Linked DNA regions of Homo sapiens: region 2 is linked to region 1. Evidence: fine-mapped expression QTL. A gene starts in region 1. The other region holds a variant in brackets. All regions are shown on one strand. Distances are between the middles of the regions. Region 1 holds the start of DARS1-AS1 (DARS1 antisense RNA 1). Region 2 holds the start of THSD7B (thrombospondin type 1 domain containing 7B).

Region 1 (5,375 bases):
CTGACAATGTTTACACAGGGTTATGACATCTACTTGGATTATTAATGTCATTTAAGCTTTTCAGAATTATACCTTCAGATTTATGCCAACCTTACTTAAAATTTCATTTAGAGCTTTCCTGGAATTAGAAAGCAAAAAAGCTTTATTTACTGTCACATAGCTACTAACCTGGTTTTTCTTGTGATTGTATCATTGAAGATATTCCATATCTCTCTTTAGCATAATCCTACAAAAAAAGTTTTTTGCATCGTGACTTTTTATGTAAACACTAAGAGCACAGTAAACACATAAATACTAATAATAGAATATAAAAATGAATTTAACTTTCAGGATCATTTTATTAATTCAGAAAGTCAGTAGTTTCATAATGTGGAAATCTCTCATTCATTTACATATGTACTCTACAGAAAACAGAAAAGTACTGTTTCTGGTTAGTTTGTTTTGAAGATCACCACTCCTAGATGGATTTACCATACTTAATAACATTCTCAGATAAAATTTACACATATGTACAACACATCTTAACTACCTTCTTCAAAAAGATGAAACTACTTCAAAGCAGGGACATAAATTTCCTCTGTGAAGGGAGTAGGATGAAGTACCACAGTTTTATTAACTTCCTATTACAGGAAGAAATGTTCAAAGAGAACCAACGTTTTGGGTAAGCTTTCTGAGCACCAGATGTCCACAGTTTTTAGAAACTGGAGATGCTGGGTATAAGCTAACTACAACTTTCCTTTTGTAAAACATCATCAAAAAATTCACCAGCTTCCTGTTTCTAAAAACCAGATTCAGGATACCAGGTTACAGGAGTTTGACACTGACAATATAATAATATCAAATTTCTTGTTACAGATTAGAGTTAGGAACAGGAAACAGAAGACCTAGGGTCCAATCTGTTAACAAAATATACTTATTAAATAGATAAGTGGCCTTTATTTCAATCTTACTTTACCTCTAAAATGATCTAAGATTCTTCTAGCTATAAAATGGCATAACTCTGCCACAATGTCTACCTTGTATCTAGACCTATACTATCTGTAAGGGTACACTGATAGTTTATGTAATTAAGCAGATTAAGAGTACACAAAAATAATTGCCCTAGTTTTTACAAGGTAACTTAAGATCTGTATGAAACAATTAAGTTTCTGTCACTTTACAGCTACCTGTTGGAATCCTCTCCTTTAGAGCAGGAGGGTGCTGGATTTTGTGTTTACACCAAAATAAAACCAGACATGTTTAAGGCGCTTACTGAACAATTTAAAGAAAAAGATAACCCTGGCCAGAGTAGAGAGATACAGTCACACAATGAAGCCTGAGGGCAACAGAAGGAGATTAAATTGTGTGAAGGACAAAAAAGTTGCATTCATAATTAGTACTATTAATATTTCAGTGACTCTTCCTCATTTAGTATTCTAAGATGACCTTACTTCTCATGTTGCTTACCACAAACTCAGAACTCCTTATAGAAAAATTAGGGAGCCAGACGGAAATTAAGGCTTAACAGTACTACAGCACACATAACTTGTAGGATGGTTTCAAACTTTGATTTCTGAAAAGCACCGAAGGATCACTGGGTGTTATGAATTATCCACGTGATTTGGGGTCACTTCACCTCAAATGCATTCTCGGTAACTCCTATTACCTACCTTACCGGGTCACTGAGAGGGAGAAAGTAAATAAAAATGACATGTGTTCTTTAAAGCTGTCACATGGGAAATGGTCATTAAACATATTGGCAGATGGTTTTGCTAAGTACTGTCATTACTTGCTAAAGCATTAGGAACACGAGGGCTGAGTACATATCGATTACTAGTGCTTATTAAAATTTTCCCAGGGATTGTGCATTACGTGCAGGACGTGCCTAACCCAGAGAGACTCAAGTGTGACGCCGCGCTCCTACTTCCGGGGCGGCTGGTTCTTCCCGTCCTCCCCACCCCGGGGACACGCTTCTAGTAGGCCAAACTCCCAGGTGACCCCCGCAAGAAACGCGGTCCGGAGAGGGTCTGGCCCCACTGCTGGGGCAAGGGCTCTAGGCGCCCGGACCCCACGCCCGCAGCCTGCGGAGAACGTGCCGACAAGGACCTGTAGGGCCCCACTCCCCCTCCTCCCTCCCTCGGCGCAGCCCGGCCCAGGGGTCTGTCCTCCCAGGCCCAGGAAAGGAGGAAACCCACTTCCGCCGCGTCCATGATCTCCCGCGGCTTCTCCTGACTCTTGCGGCTGGCGCTGGCGCTGGGCATCGGGACACGGAACTGGGCAGTGGACACCACCCTCCCTCGCAGGCTTCCGTAAGGCAGGCCAAAGGGGCTTCTCCCTCCCTCCCAGTCTCCGCCCTCCCGACCCTGGGGTCTCAGCACACGCGCTCGGACTCCGCGTGGAGGTGCGGCTCCAGAAAGATCGCGAGAGCTGCGGCTATCTCGAGATCCCGGAGCGCTGGCGGCCGCGCGCAGGGTCTCCTCCCACTCTTGCCCCGCCCCTCCGGGAGTTTTCCCGGAGTTGGAGGGAATTCCCGGGAATTCGCGGTAGTTTCGCTGGATTGGCTCTGGGGGCGGGGGCAGGGGTTACCAGGTGGCTGGCTGTAGACCTGGGCGAATGCCAGCTCTCTTCAGCTTCGTCCCAACTGCGACTTCTGCTCCATTCTTCTAACAGCCCTTTCAACTCCGCTCGGCTGTAACCGCAGACTCGTCACTAAAACACCCACCTAAGCGCGGGCCTTGGTTTCTCCTCTCTTGGACTTTCCCGCCTTCTCTCTTCCCCTGGGCGACGTAGCTGCTTGGGGACGGAGGAGGCCTCTTCGCAATCCATTGCCCTGCTTGTTGGGACAGAGGAGTGCAGTTGGCTTGCCAAGGCAGCATGGGTTACCAGTCCCTGTGTAAGTGAGGTGTAAATACAGTGGCAACGACAACAAGAAACGCATACAATTGCATTGATTGCCTGGATCTGTTGCAGTGTTAGGGACAGTGCATAGTGTTGGTTGCCCAATGGGCGAATATCCCCAAGTTAGGCTTTTTTAAAAAACTGATTTTTTAAAAAAGCTATCATTCATGAGTTTTGAATCGAAATTGAAAATAATTTGGAGATTTGGTTTAATACTGTTTCCCCTGCCAGAGTTTGCACTCCGTCGTTTCAACTGACTTGGTAGTGTCTTAGTCTGGCACAAAGTGTTAAGGGGTGCACATAGATCCCAGCGCAAGTGAAAGGCTCTCTCTGGAGGCTCCCCCATGGAGTAGTGAGAAGACAGCCATGGTCCTTGCTTGCCTGTAGCTTTCCTTCTAATTGCAGGTGGTATGAAATTTTATTCCCTATTTAATTGATCAAAGATTATTTACAAACATCTACTTTGTGCCAGGCATTCTATCAGGTGCTGGCAATAAAAAGATAAGTCCTAGTTCCTGTTCTTAATATTACACAGGTACCTAGGCTGATAGATGCGCCATCTTGATACATGCTTCCATTATTACAGAGTCAGGAAGAGAATTTAGCTCTTAAAATGGCTGCCTGGAAGTGACACATTTCACATTCTCCTAGTTTATTGGCGAGAACAAGTCACATCGTCATTCCTGAGTTCATGGGGGCAGGAGAATTTACTCATTCCTTGGGGAGCAACACTGAATATTCATGATCAGTATCACATTCCGTTAAAAAAGGCATCCCATTATACTCATGGGATTCGAATACAGAAGGGGGTCTGTGAAGTTGCTTCATCTTGGAATTTTTTTTAAAACTTGGATTGCCTCAATCAGGTATAGTCCTAATGTATGGACTGGTTATCAGAAATCTGAATACAAATCCCATCTATTATCCCTTTGCTAGGGTAGCGATCTTACCTTTCCATCTGTCCATGAGGCCTGTCCATGTACTTCTTTCTTACTTTGGCCCCGTTGCCTTGATAAAAGTATTCTTATTTAGTCCTGGAATAAGACTGTAAATATATATTCTTGTTTCTGGCCTCCTTTCCTGATAGTGATAGAAAAGAAGCATTTGCCAGATCAGTGGCCACATGTCATATGCCTGAGGTCTTAAGAATCTGCTGTAGTAAAGATACCACAGCTGCAACTGAGGCTGTGACTTGGTTGAACTTGCAGTAGTCTACTGTCAAGTTCCTGAATTTGTCTGGTTTTTGCTGGAGCCACACCGGTGACAATAGGAATGTGATGGAGACTACCAACCATTACGTCTTTAAGGGTTGCACTGATCTCCACTATTCCCCTTGGGGACATGTTATTGTTTATGATTTCCTATCCTAGTTGGGGGCTGGGAAAGTGACTTTTAGAGATTTCCTCTTAGCTTTATCCGGTATGGTAGCCTATTCCACAGACCAAAGAATAGGGGAACAGCTCTGCTATGGTGCTCTGGCTGCTTTGCAGGATCCACATAAGCCATGTAGGCAAGGGCGGGAACTGCAGCTAACCTGAATCTTGGAAAAACATCTTGTGATCCTGCTGGAACATGAGAGGGTGGAAGGCCATCTCCCACTCACTTCCCTGTCTCCCTGAGAGGCTGTTATGGGATGGTTTCTTACTACCTCCTAGATTCTGATGAGGTGTGGGACTTCTTGCCCCCTTCCCTCAAGGGAAATGCAGAATACAAAAATGTATATAATATCTTACTGCTTAACTGGAGTCTAGAAGTGGCTGTTAAGCAACAGAGTGTCCCACTACTCATGTTGCAGTCATTTGGTGCCTTTTGTTTCAGTGATGTCCTTAATGGGACAAGAATCACAGGGAGCTGGCAACTTTGGCTTATTCTTCTTTCTCTCTCTCTTTTTTTTAATTTAATTTTTTTTTTTTTTGAGACAGAGTGTCCCTTTGTCTCCCAGGCTGGTGTGAAGTGTCATGATCTTGGCTCACTGCAACCTCCACCTCCCAAGTTCAAGTGATTCTCCTGCCTCAGCCTCCCGAGTAGCTGGGATTACAGGTGCCCGCCACCATGCCTGGCTAATTTTTGTATTTTTAGTAGGCATGGTTTCACCATGTTGGCCAGGCTGGTCTCAAACTCCTGACCTCAGGTGATCCGCCTGCCTTAGCCTCTCAAAGTGCTGGGATTACAGTAGTGAACCACCGCACCTGGCCTTTTTTTTTTTTTTTTTTTGAGGCAGGGTCCCACTCCGTTGCCCAGGTTGGAATGCAGTGGTGCGATCAAGGCTCATTGCAGCCCCGACCTCCCGGGCTCAAGGGGTCCTCCCACCTCAGCCTTTGGAGTAGCTGAGACTACGGGTGTGCACCACCATGCTCAGCTAATTTTTGTATTTTTTGTAGAGATGGGGATTCACCATGTTGTCCAGGCTGGGGGCTTATTCTTGTTTTCACTGTCTATGTAAGTAATAAACCATCTAAATCTAAAAGCAGCATGTTACAGCTTTACTGATGGAATCA
Region 2 (5,375 bases), 780 kb after region 1:
CTCATATCCTAGATTCAAAAACCAGGAGACCAAACACAAACAATGCCTCAGAGGAGAAAAGTTGTGTCTTAAGAATCAAAGTATTCTTGGGTATCGTAAGTGATTGCTGACGTAGAGCAAAGGGTTAATGAGAATGGGCTGGCATATTAAATCAGAATGCACGTTGAAAGCAAATTGCCAGCCTAAAGGAAAATATACGTATCATTGTCTCTGGTGAGGGAGGGGGACAAATAACTACTAAGATGTCCATACATGCCATACTCAGAAGTCATCCTTGATATCTTTTTTTCCAGACAGATTGCAAACACAAGTCTTTCTCCCATATGGGGGTGTGTGTGCAGGGGGTGTGGCCTGAAAATGCAGCATTGATTCTGGGAAAACTGAAACCTGGGAAGCCTGGGTATAATAGTTCAAGAAAACAGAAATGTTTTTCTTTGGCTGTTGTTCCTGAAGTTACTTAAATGAGACTCATTGGCTATTGATCTGTATATATTGAGATTACAATAAAACATAATGGACCAGTTTCTCTCTCCCCTGGGTCACAGGATTGGCCTTTTATCTCTTGAGAGTAATAAATCATGGTCTTGGATTTAAGAAAATATTCTGGGATCTGGTTGGCAGCTGATTTATTTTTAAGACAGTGATGTCAGGAAAAAAAAAAAGCATAACCCAGAATGTGACTGTAGTGGGAGAATAGCGATTGCTGTTTAAAATATTAAGTAAGGCTTCCCTGCTTTCAGAACCCATCATCCCACAGCAAGCTGAGTTGAAGCCCCTTACCAATATATTCACATCTTTCTTTACAATGGCACTTACATTCTTTTGATTTCTTTTTATCTGTGACAGATCCTAGCTTCTCTATTTATCTCTTGAATCTAATTTGCTCTATGACATCAAGCTTTAATTTTATCATTATTATTTTGCTTCATTTTAAGCACCCATGGTGTGCCAGGCATTGGATAAAATAGAAAAGATACAATCCCTGCTGTCGCTGGGCTCACACATTTAAAGAGATTTGACAGGCAAAATATCCTGTAATTGGCAATAGGTAGTCCTCATGCTTCCCCCCGCCCCTTCTCCCTTTTGAAGCAACTTCATCTCTCTGAACAAGCTTAAGAAGTTCCCTAGATCAAAGGTGTCAAAAACCAGAAGGGTTTGGAACAAGTGTCAGAGAGTAAGCAAACGACTTTCTGAGCTGTGACTCTGCTCCTCGACTGCCCACGTGCTCTCCGCTGTCTGCACTCCTGCCTCACCTGGGCTGACTCGGACTCTCCACCTCCTTTGCTGCTTCCGGCATGAGCTACCCAGGAGCCTAAGGCGCTCCTTCCCGCAACTCCGGTCCCCGCGCCCCGGGACTGCAAATCCTTTAAACAGAGGCCCCAGAGCTAGGGGTTTTCCCAGGCTCTGGTGGGCGTGGGCTGACAGTCGCTGGGAGCCCCGCAACAGGGGGGATGTCCAGGCAGGTATGCACCCAGCTCCCGGCGTTTCCCGGAGTCACCACAATGTTTCCCTTTCTCTCTCCCCCACGTATGCTGCTAGGGGTACTCCCCAGATAGGATTTTCTTTGTCTTTTCTCCTAGTAACACCGAAGCCCTCTCGTGCCCGGGGACTGCAGAGGAACGCCAGACCATCCGGACCTTGCGGGATGGCTCGGTGTGTGTGTTTTACTGTGTGTCGGAGTGTCGCGCATGTGTGCGTGTTGGGGCGCGTTATCAACAGGGGCCTAGGGCACCCCCACTCTTTCTTGCTCTCTTCCCCCATCACTTCATGGACCTCCGAGGCGCAAAGCGCTCGACCCTCTCCTGGGCTCAGTGGCTTGGGTACTCCGGGCTGAGCTCAGCTGGGGAGTCCCCTTACCCAGCCCGCACCGGCACCCCGAAGCTTCAAAGTTGCGGCAAACAGTTGCGGGGAGCAGAGGAACTGAGGTCCAGGCCAGCGCGCCCGCGGTCGCTCGCCTTGGGGAGCAGGCTGAGCCGAGGGTCGTGCGGGTGCGCGGCAGAGGCGGTAGGAGGCGGAGGAGAGGGGGGAGAAAGAGGGGGCGGTGGGGAACAGCTGCCGGGGTAGGCGAGGCGCAAGGTGGCTCCCCGCGGCCCCGCGCCCCGCGGCTCTCGGACGCACCAGGCAGCCAATGGCTGCGCAGAGGTGTACAGCAGATGGCGTCTGACTGCGCCGTTCCTTCCTCCTCCTCCTCCTCCTCCTTCTCTTCCTCCTCCTCCTTCTCTTCCTCCTCCTCCTCCTTCAGTGCTGAGGAGCCAGAGTCGCCGCCGGGTTGCCAGACGCTGGAATGGGTGGTCTTCCGACACACACCACCATCTTTCTTGCGCTCGGGAAGCTCGGGGCTCAGCGGCTCCCAGAGGTTACGGCGGCGGCTCTGGCGAGACGGGTGAGTGCAAGCACGCGGAGCCCCGAGTCGGGGATGCCGGGCCCCCTGGCCGGCCGACTGGGGCGCGGGGTGGCAGCGCCGGGGAAGGGGGCGCGCTGCCGGCGCAGACTTTGCTCTTTCCTCGCCGGACAGCCATCGTCGCCCCTTCTCCCAGCCAGACGCGGGAACTTGGAAGCGGATCTTCTCGGACGCCTCTGGCTTGGGGCTGCGGGAAGCGTGGGCTGCCCGGGGCGCAGTGTGCGGAGACCCTCTAGGCGGGCGGGGACGCCCCACGCGGCGACCTGAGCACCGACCTCATGCAACGGGACCGAACCTTGGGACCCGGGCAGCAGGAGCTCTGTTCCCTTCACCTCCAGCTTGGTTTGAGGGATACTGATGAAGGAAACCGGGGGTTTCCCGTCCTGCGCGGAGAGCCTCGGCGCCCAAAATCGAAAGGCCGGGAGTTGTTCTGCAGGCTTTGCAAACAGGTTGACTGAGGGTTTCCTTTCCCGTAGCGCTGACTGCGAAATCTGTGCATAGGCGTTCAGTGCCAGTGGAGGATAGCTGAGCAAGCCAAGAAGTTTTGCAGCTTCCTCTGATTTATCGGTGGAGTGTCAGGAGGCTGTAGCAACAGTTTACATTTCCCCTGTCCCTGCGAGTGGCTAGGGGCAAGCTGGGCTCGGACGTGATATCCTGCTGTTTGTGGAGAGGAAACTGGGAACGGGGCTTGAGAGTGAGGGGCAGGGAGGGGGGGACAGGCATATTTTCTACTGCATCGCCCATCTGCACCTGTCCCCTTTGCTGTCTTACATGTCCCA[T/C]AGTATTAAAGTTATTTGAATAAGCAAATGAACCCCGCTCTTTGGTGACCGCGTATTTTGAAGTTGGAAAACTTTGCAGGGGACGAGGGAATGTTGAGGAGGGGGCGTTAAGCTCTCTCACTCTATCCCTTTTTAAAGACAAGAAAAAAACTTTCGTTGGCGAAGGTGGTACTTTTTTCTTTTGGAATGTCTGAGCTCAGAGCTTCCCATAAGAGGTATTGCGATTCAATACTGTACAGTCAAGGTGAAGTTCCACTAAGATTATGGGACCGTGGCATATTCTACGGAAGATACCAGGGTTCCTTGGCGCTCTGTTCATTGCCAGGGTGGTCTGCTGAAAGCCGGCAGTTTCCCACCCTCAGACTCCTTGGAGCTCTTTAAATGACGGTCTGCCTGGTGTTTCTCAGCGGTACACCTGTGAGTGCTCTGTTATCATGGAAATGGTAACCCATGCAGGTAGGGCTCATGCCAACCAGACTGTGGTGGGGTGTGTGTGTGTTTGTGTGTGTGTGTATACATGCGCGTGCGTGTGAACGTGTGTGTTTGGAGTTTCCTTTTGACAGGTAATCTTTGGATGTCAAAGGGATACAGTTATTTGTCTGGCAGTGTCAGGGCAATCTGAGTTTCTCGAGTAACTAGGAGGAGGTAATCTCCAGGGAAGCCTTTTTGTGCTCTTGACTGTCTACTCAGCAGTTGGTGAAGGCTTCCTGAAAGCCACTTAGGGTGTTACTAACCAAATCAAGAAGTCTTACTCAGTGGTGAGTGAAAGCTCGTGTCTTTGTGGGTTAAAAGCTGTTTATAAAGTTTCTGTCTTGAGGCTTCACTTTGACAGACTGCTGTTTTTAAACCTTAGTGCCATTAATAATAGGAGTCTTCTTTTGAAAAGTAATGTGGCCAGTTCTCTGTTTTCTGAGGGTAGTTGATCTAATCTGGTAGATTCCCTGGAATTGTTTTATTTTCTATCCCTGGGAAGTGTGTGTGTGTGTGTGTGTGTGTTGTGTGTATTTGTGTGTGTGTGTTTTCTTCATCTACCTGCTGAGAGTTGAGGGTTAGAAACTCTTTTTCATGCAAATTTAAGTGAAAAAAATTATGAAGAAAATTCTTCTGACACTGTAACAATATACACAGATACTTCTGAAAAAATTGTAGGTGTCATTGTTGACTTTAAAAACATCGGATAGTCTCGTATAAATCAGCACAGACAGATCCAGCAGCCCTGAACACCTACAAACCATTCAGGGTTTTGGATATTCTAGATTAATCTGTGATAAGGGCTTGGAGATACGTGGTCCAGGAAAGGGCTGTCTACTGTTGGTGGACTTTGATAGTCTGTTTTGAGGGTTCATAATACGATGAGCTCACTTTATGTCAACCTTAATATTTAAATCAATACTTGAGAAATGATCTTACAATATTTCTTAATCTTCTGGCCCATTGTTTTCCATCAAAGTTGTTGATTGTTAGAGAGTTGAAAGGCTAAGAAAGAGGAACACTGTTAGACAGGTAGAAAATAATTACCGATCATATAAACAATGTAAATACAGACTCTACTGTTTGAAGACTGACATTAACAAATTGGTAACGAGAGGTACCTTTCTGTTCTCTGCTGAGTGTGCCTTTTGAGAGAAAGTAGGGAAGGAATGAAAGGAAAATGGTACTAAATTGTACTTCATCAGAAGGGCTATGAAGGACCTTGTCTGCTTGCTACAGATCCTATTTCTGAAGGAATAACTCTTTTGTTAATATCAGCAAAAAGAATGTTGTCCTTAAATGATAGACCGAAAAAGCAGAATAAAAAGATAGGCTCTAAGTTAAAGGAGGGAGAATGTCCAAACAAGAACAATTCTAAAGCATGTCAACTCACTTTAATTATACTTCACAAATTGAAACTGGAGTTGTATGATTCCTTTAAAGAAAAAAAGTCTTGCCAAAACTTCAATTCTGCTGTTCTGCACACTTTACAAAGATTAGGCATTAAAGTAATAACATTATGTCAAAAGTTTGAATAGAATGATGAAGAATATTTGACTGGTCTTATTTAGTTAACTGTGAAAATGACAAATGATACAATATATTAAATACATGATTAAGACAAACAGATTAAAGAATTCTAAGTAGTGACAACTATATTAGTTGATGGGAAAAAAAGAATAGCACTATTAAGGCTTCAGAGATGCTCTACAGACAAAGCATAA

What was found. PIP is the estimated chance that this variant, and not a neighbour inherited with it, causes the effect.
Region 2: its variant is fine-mapped to the expression of DARS1-AS1 in thyroid (GTEx, PIP 0.93).

What each region holds. Positions count from the first base shown.
Region 1 is chr2:135,983,229-135,988,603 of GRCh38, forward strand. It overlaps DARS1-AS1 (DARS1 antisense RNA 1), which reads left to right and starts at 1,948. Exons shown (of 4, transcript NR_110199.1): 1 at 1,948-2,288. DARS1 (aspartyl-tRNA synthetase 1) reads right to left here and starts at 2,398. Exons shown (of 16, transcript NM_001349.4): 1 at 2,175-2,398; 2 at 169-226. The coding sequence starts at 2,240. RefSeq lists a silencer at 2,035-2,094 and an enhancer at 2,145-2,244.
Region 2 is chr2:136,763,305-136,768,679 of GRCh38, forward strand. It overlaps THSD7B (thrombospondin type 1 domain containing 7B), which reads left to right and starts at 2,241. Exons shown (of 28, transcript NM_001316349.2): 1 at 2,241-2,383. RefSeq lists an enhancer at 2,223-2,724. The variant T/C (reference allele first, on the strand shown) is at 3,181.